2 linked regions of the Homo sapiens genome follow. The protein of the gene in region 1 interacts with the protein of each later gene in a pairwise test. Each region holds a gene or a part of one and is shown in the gene's direction. Other genes may lie near its edges.

Region 1 (3,500 bases):
AGCTGGGACTACAGGCACACACCACCACGCCCAGCTAATTTTTGTATTTTTAGTAGAGATGGGGTTTCACCATGTTAGCCAGGCTGGTCTCGAACTCCTGACCTCAGGTGATCCACCTGCCTTGGCCTCCCAACGTGCTGGGATTACAGGCGTGAGCCACCGCACCCGGCCTGGACCTGGGATTTTTGTAAAATTTGTAAAAGAAAGATTTTTTTTTCTGTTGCTTTTCCAAAAGAGGGCCCCCAAATCATGTAAGCTTCAGGGCCTCACCAACCTGGACCCACCCTGGAACCCAAGCCCTCTGAGCCCCTGGGTCAGCCTGCACAGAAGCAGGGCCTCCAAGACCTGGCTTGTCTCTTTTTTATTTTTTTAGAGACAGGATCTTGCTGTGTTGCCCAGGCTGGTCTCAGACTCCTGGACTCAAGTGATCCTCCCACCTCAGCCTTGTGAGCAGCTGGGACGATGAGGCGAGGCGTGGGCCACTGCATCCGGCATGGCTTGTCTCTTGACTAAGGCTTTCTCACCTCTTGGTGTCATCGCCCCAGTGGCAGATCAGCTGCCACTCCTGGCACCCCCAGGCCACAGCTGTGACCTTCAGTAAGTGTCCCCTCCCCACCCTCTGTGCCTCAGTCTTCCCACCCGAACTGGGCTGGGCTGGGTCAGAAGTGCCTGATCTGTTGCGCGGTGACTGCCGCCTGTCAGTGACTCATTTCTTTGTTCTAAAGCCAGATGGGAAAAAAAGGAGTTACAGCAAGAAGCTAAACTGATTTAATAGAAAGGACCACCTTTTATTTGGAGTTTATATTCTTTTTTGCAGGGGGCTAAGATGGACTATAGGGAATGAATATCAGTGCTGGCAGATGAGTTTTTTGTTTGTTTGTTTTTTGTTTTTGAGATGGAGTCTCGCTCTGTCTCCAGGCTAGAGTGCAGTGGCGCGATCTTGGCTCACTGCAACCTCTGCCTCCTGGTTTCAAGTGATTCTCCTGCCTCAGCCTCCCAAATAGCTGGGATTACAGGCACCCACCACCATGCCCAGCTACTTTTTAAATTTTTAGTAGAGACGGGGTTTCACCATCTTGGCCAGGCTGGTCTCAAACTCCTGACCTAGTGATCCACCCGCCTCAGCCTCCCAAAGTGCTGGGATTACAGGTGTGAGCCACCGTGCCCAGTCAATGTTTCTTTAATTCTCTACTTTGACAAAATGAAAATGATAAAATGTTTGAAATGTTGCCATTTTCAGGGTTCATTTTTTAAGGGCTTTGGCCATAATACCACATGGTTCTGTAAGTGGGGTGGGTATCTTCCCCCCGTTTTACAAATGACAGAATTAAGGCTCAGCCTGGAGAAGTGACTTGTGCTAGCTCAAGGCCTGGGCTTGTCAGAGACTTGGTTTGAACCCGGACTGCTGGGCTCCACATTCTGTGTACTCCCTGTGGGTTCTCTGCCTGGATATCCATGGCACCAAGGGGTGGCCTGAGGGGGGCAGCTTCATACCCCTGGTTTTATTCACCCCCTCCACTCCACCCCCCATCATCCCAAGTGAACACTGAATAAAAAAGCTGAACTTGGCCAGGTGAGGTGGCTCACGCCTATAATCCCAGCACTTTGGGAGGCCAAGGCGGGTGGATCACTTGAGGTCAGGAGTTCGAGACCATCCTGGCCAACATGGTGAAACCCCATCTCTACTAAAATACAAAAATTAGCTGAGCGTGGTGGCGGTCGCCTGTTATCCCAGCTACTCAGGAGGCTGAGGCAGGAGAATCGCTTGAACCCGGGAGGCGGAGGTTGCAGTTAGCTGAGATCACACCACTGCACTCCAGCCTGGGCAACAAAAGCAAAACTCTGTCTCAAATAAAAAAAAAAAAAAGCTGAACGTTTTTTGTAAACACAGCAGTTTCAAGATAAGACCCCTTGCCTCCCCCAACCAACTTGCCATGTGCCAGCCATGGGGCCACAGGAAAATTCTGGGACCAGCGGTTGTTGGGGAAGAGGGTCCAGGGTAGAGACAGAACCTCTGGCCAGTTCTGATGTTCATTTGTTCATTCCACAAGTCCCCTGCTCAGTGCCAGCTGAGTGCTCAGTGCCACCCCAAGGCACTCTCGCTCCAATAACGAGAACAGGATTGAGTGGGAAGCACTGTCCCAGAGGCTCGGGTCACTACAAGAAGGAATTCCCAAGGGGTGGCCCAGGAGAGGCTTGGATGACAGACTCACAAGCTGGACTTCCTCTGAGGGCAGTGGGAAGCTGGAGAGAGGGTCAAGGGTATTTCGGAAGCTCCTGTGGAAGCTTGGTTTGGAGAGGGCTCTGTGGCTGGAAATGCGTGGTCACGTCCAGCCTGTCCTCTCCCAGTACCGGGCACAGCCCTGTCACCTAGACAGGAAGGTGGGCCCACGGCCCTTGTTTGTTATTTATTGCTGACCACCCTGGAGTCTTTCTCACCTCTTCACCTCCTGTGGCCGGCCGCTCCGCCGCTTCTTCTCTCTCAGGTCTAGGACAGGGTCAGCTGCAAGGAGACCGCTGGGAGGTGATAGATTTCTGCTGTGTTTTGGGCACTTCCTCATGTCCAGGGACAGCCCAGGGGCGGCCTCAAGAGCCTGAGAAAGCCTAGGGCATCAGGAGCAGGGCCATCAGAGCGGGACCTTGGAAAACCCCTACCTCTTTCAGCCTTGGTTGCCTCATCTGTAACATGGGATTGGAGGGCCTGGGTTTGGGGAGGCCTCGAGAGTTTATAAAAATGCAAATTTTGGCCAGGTGTGGAGGCTCATGCCTGTAAGCCCAACACTTTGGGAGGCAGAGGCAGGTGGATCACCTGAGGTCAGGAGTTCGAGACCAGCCTGGCCAACATAGCGAAACCCTATCTCTACTAAAATTACAAAAAATTAGCCAGGCGTGGTGGCACGCGTCTGTAGTCCCAGCTACTTGGGAGGCTGAGGCATGAGTATCGCTTAAGCCCGAGAGGTGGAGGTTGCAGTGAGCCGAGATTGCGCCATCGCACTCCAGCCTGGGCTAAAAGAGTGAAACTCCATTTCAAAAAAAGAAAAGAAAAAGAAAGAAAGGAAAAGAAAATGCAAGTTATTTTTGTTTGTTTGTTTTTGAGACAGGGTCTCGCTCTGTCACCCAAGTTGGAATGCAGTGGCACGATCTCAGCTCACTGCAGCCTCCACCTTCCAAATTCAAGCGATTCTCCTGCCTCAGACTCCTGAGTAGATGTCCGCCACCACACCCGGCTAATTTTTATATTTTTAGTAGAGACAGGGTTTCATCATGTTGGCCAGGCTGGTCTCAAACTCCTGACCTCAAGTGATCCGCCTGCCCCGGCCTCCCAAAGTGCTGGGATTACAGGTGTGAGCCATCTTGCCTGGCCTGAATGCAAGTTTAAAAGGCCTGCCGTAAGTCTGCTGTGGTGCGTTTTGTTATCCCCTCCTTAGATGAAAAGCTGAGGCCCAGAGAGGTTAACTGGAGTCACTGGGATCGGAACCCATGGCCCCTGCTCCAGGGAG
Region 2 (3,500 bases), on another chromosome or scaffold:
AGAAAAATAAAGCAAGTACCTCATGTTGCTTCCCCAAATCTACTTCATTGGAGAATTACAGCTAAAAACAATGTTCAGATTTTTGCTCCTTCTGTCATGTGGTCCCTTGAGAATTTGCCAAATGTATAAATCCAGTGACTTATTTTGATGTACTCTTTTGGTTTGAGGTCTGTGACAGCAAACATAACCTCCTTGAATCCCAGCCTCAAATGCCTATGGACCTTCTGTTCTAACTGTTATTATAACTGTAGCCGTTATTATAGTGGCTAAAGTTCTAACTTCTGTTCTAACTGTGCTCCTGGTTCCATGACAAAGAGAGCTTTACTTGTCTTATTCCTAGCACAGTGCCCATAGCAGGCATACATAAAATGTGGTATGTCAGATAAACATCTGAAAAAGTGTGAGATGTCATTAGACGTTCATTCAGCTACAAGAACAGAAAACCCTACTACAGCGGCTTAAACAAGTAAGGAGTTTGTTTTTCTCAGAGAACGAGAAGTCTGGAGGTGAGAAGGCTGGGGCTGGGAAAGGGGTTCCGATATGAACGTCATCTGAGACAGGCTCCTTGTGTCTTCCCGCACCACCCTCCTTAGCATGGAGCTTTCATACTCACTTCCGCAAGTTGCAGCAGAAAGACGGGCAGAGGCATGCTCCAGAAGAGTCTTGTCTTGTCTTTTCTTTTCTTTTCTTTTCTCTCTTCTTTTCTTTTCTCTCTCTCTCTCTCTGTCTCATCTCTTTCTTTCTTTTGACTCAGAGTCTCTCTCAGTGGCACAATCTCGGCTCACTGCAACCTCCGCTTCCTGGGTTCAAGTGATTCTCCTGCCTCAGCCTCCAAGTAGCTGGGATTACAGACGTGCACCACCACGCCCAGCTAATTTTTGTATTTTTAGTAGAGACGGGGTTTCACCATGTTGGTCAGGCTGGTCTTGAACTCCTGACCCTGTGATCTGCCCCCCTCGGCCTCCCAAAGTGCTGGGATTACAGATGTGAGCCACCACGCCTGGCCTGTCCTTCTTTATAATAAATAATAATAATAACAGCTTTTCTGGTAGCCCACCCCAAAAGACTTCTTACATGTCATTGGCCAGAACCATATCACATACACACTGTTAACGGTGACGGAACCAGAGAGAATCTAGTGTTTGAGACAGACACGTTGCCAATACATCAAAATAAGAATTTTGGGCCAGACACAGTGGCTCACGCCTGTAATTCCAGCATTTTGGGAGGTCAAGGCGGGTGGATCACCTGAGGTCAGGAGTTCAAGACCAGCCTGGCCAACATGGTGAAACCCCATCTCTACTAAAAACACAAAAAATCAGCCGGGCGTGCTAGCAGGCGCCTATAGTCCCAGCTACTCAGGAGGCTGAGGCAGGAGAATCGCTTGAACCCAGGAGGCAGAGGTTGCAGTGAGCCGAGATCATGCCACTTGCACTCCAGCCTGGACAACAAGAGCGAAACTCCATCTCAAAAAAATAATAATAACAACAAAATAGGAATTTTGTTAATAAGGCGGGGGGAGAATGAACATTGGGTAGGCAGCTAGCAGCATCTGCCATAGTGTGTTTTATGAGTCATAGATCCTGTCTCTAAATAGGTTGTTATTTGTTTTGGTTTTTTGTTTGTTTTACTAAAAAGCAATGGGTAATGCAGTGGGTCCAGGGGAACTTTTTTAAATGGTAGAGTGCAAGGACCACTCTGAGAACTGCTGATTATGTAGGTCTGGGCTGGGTCTATAATTCTCCATTATGGACGGGCACGCCAGGTCATCTGAGGGCAGGTGGTTGCGGGAATACATTTTGAGAAACACCGAATGTCAGGTAGTTTAGCAAAAGCGACTTTATTTTATTTCTGTTAGCTTTTTGCCTCACTCCTCTTGAGGGTATACTTTATTTTTTAATTATCTGCTTTGGTCAACATAAATCAATGTATAGTCTTAGAAGTCGTTCATTGTAGAAGGTTTTCATTGAGTTTATACTGAGTATAGAACCCTAGCGGCAATTACTTTCAATGCTTTGGGTTGTGTTTTTCTGATATTACCATATTCTAAATAGCATGCAGATACGGGCCATTTCTTCTTCTCTTTTCCAGTTCTGGATGACATCTATTGACATCCTACCAAGAAGGATGAGGGTTTCGCTCCTTTACACCCCCACCCTCCCTCTCACCTTCACATCCCTTTCTTTTAAGTTCCCAGTACGGTTATATCCTAAATTTTTGATATGTCAATGTTTGGTGTATATATTATTCCCAACTAAGGCACATGATACACCATGATCTTTACATTTCCCTTCTTGACCAGTCTTTCCCCCAACCCCCTGGAATGGGGTGTAGGAGTTGCTACATTTTCTTTAGTTGTTTGAGAACTCATCACCAAGAAGTCATTTCCTGGAGCCAAGGAAACTCATGGGGGCCCTCTGAGTGCTGCTAATTGCATGGAGCTGTTGAGTGGGGAGGAAACGCCAGGCCGCCATCAAGAAGCATTTGGGGTAAATTTTCCAAGCACATCTGAAAAGACAGAGTCTAGAACCTCCACGGTCCCTGTCTGTTGTGATTTATTTTCTCATTCTAAATACACACACACTTTTTTTTTCTGTCTAGGCCATCTCTTGTGGAATACATATGTACTTTCATACCCAATTATGTACAGTTTTTGTAATTTTACGCCTTTTTCTTAAAGAAGGCTCCCAAAAGTGTATAAGATTCAGGCCCCATAAGATGCGGTTGCTTTTTGAGCTTGTGCCCATTTGAGATGTCACTTTTCTTCCTTCACACTTGCTTGCTGGTTTGGCTGGGTATGGGATATTAATCAGAAATCATTTCCCGTACGAATTTTGAAAACATTGCTCTATTTTATTCTACTTTCTTACGGTGCTGTTGAGAGGCTGATGCCATTCTAATTCCTGATCCCTTGTATTTTGTTCTAATCTCTGGGCATTTGTAGGGTTTTCTTTATTGTTCATATTCTGATATTTCATGATGTTGTTATTTAATGTTGGGGTGGGTTTTTTGGCGGGGTGGGGGGAATACAGGGAGGTATCCGTCACTGTCCTAAGTATTTTCTAGGCCTTTTCAATCCAAAAAGTACATTCTTCAGTTCTGAGTGGTTTTCTTCTGTTATATAATTTCCTCGTTCTTTCTTTCTGAAACTTAAATTACTTAGACTGAATCTGAAAATGGGATCTCTTGGATCTGTCTTGTAATTTTATCTTTTTTATTTTAAAAAATATCCCATGTTTTTTTAGTTCTAATAAATCTTCCAACAATGCTATTAAATGTTTACATTCTACCATTATATTTTTAATTCTCAGGAGCTTTTATTGGCGAGAGGTGTGGTCTTCTGAATGGTTTTTACAGTATCCTGTTCTCATTTCATGAACGCAGCATCTTCTCTTCTTTCTCCAAGCATATTAACTCAGTACTTTTTCTACATTTTAGAAGTTTTCTTCAGCTACCTACAATGTCTGTGTCTATTTTTAAAGTGACGTTTAATGTTGCTT

What was found. The genes of interacting proteins can lie anywhere in the genome.
Region 2: the proteins of SYNGR1 (region 1) and TMEM45B interact in binary tests that used the Homo sapiens proteins (3 or more experiments, as listed by UniProt).

Annotation. Positions count from the first base shown.
Region 1 is NC_000022.11:39,352,991-39,356,490, forward strand, and holds part of SYNGR1 (synaptogyrin-1), read left to right. Parts: intron 1-3,500. UniProt on the Homo sapiens protein: May play a role in regulated exocytosis. Modulates the localization of synaptophysin/SYP into synaptic-like microvesicles and may therefore play a role in synaptic-like microvesicle formation and/or maturation.
Region 2 is NC_000011.10:129,818,848-129,822,347, forward strand, and holds part of TMEM45B (transmembrane protein 45B), read left to right. Parts: intron 1-3,500.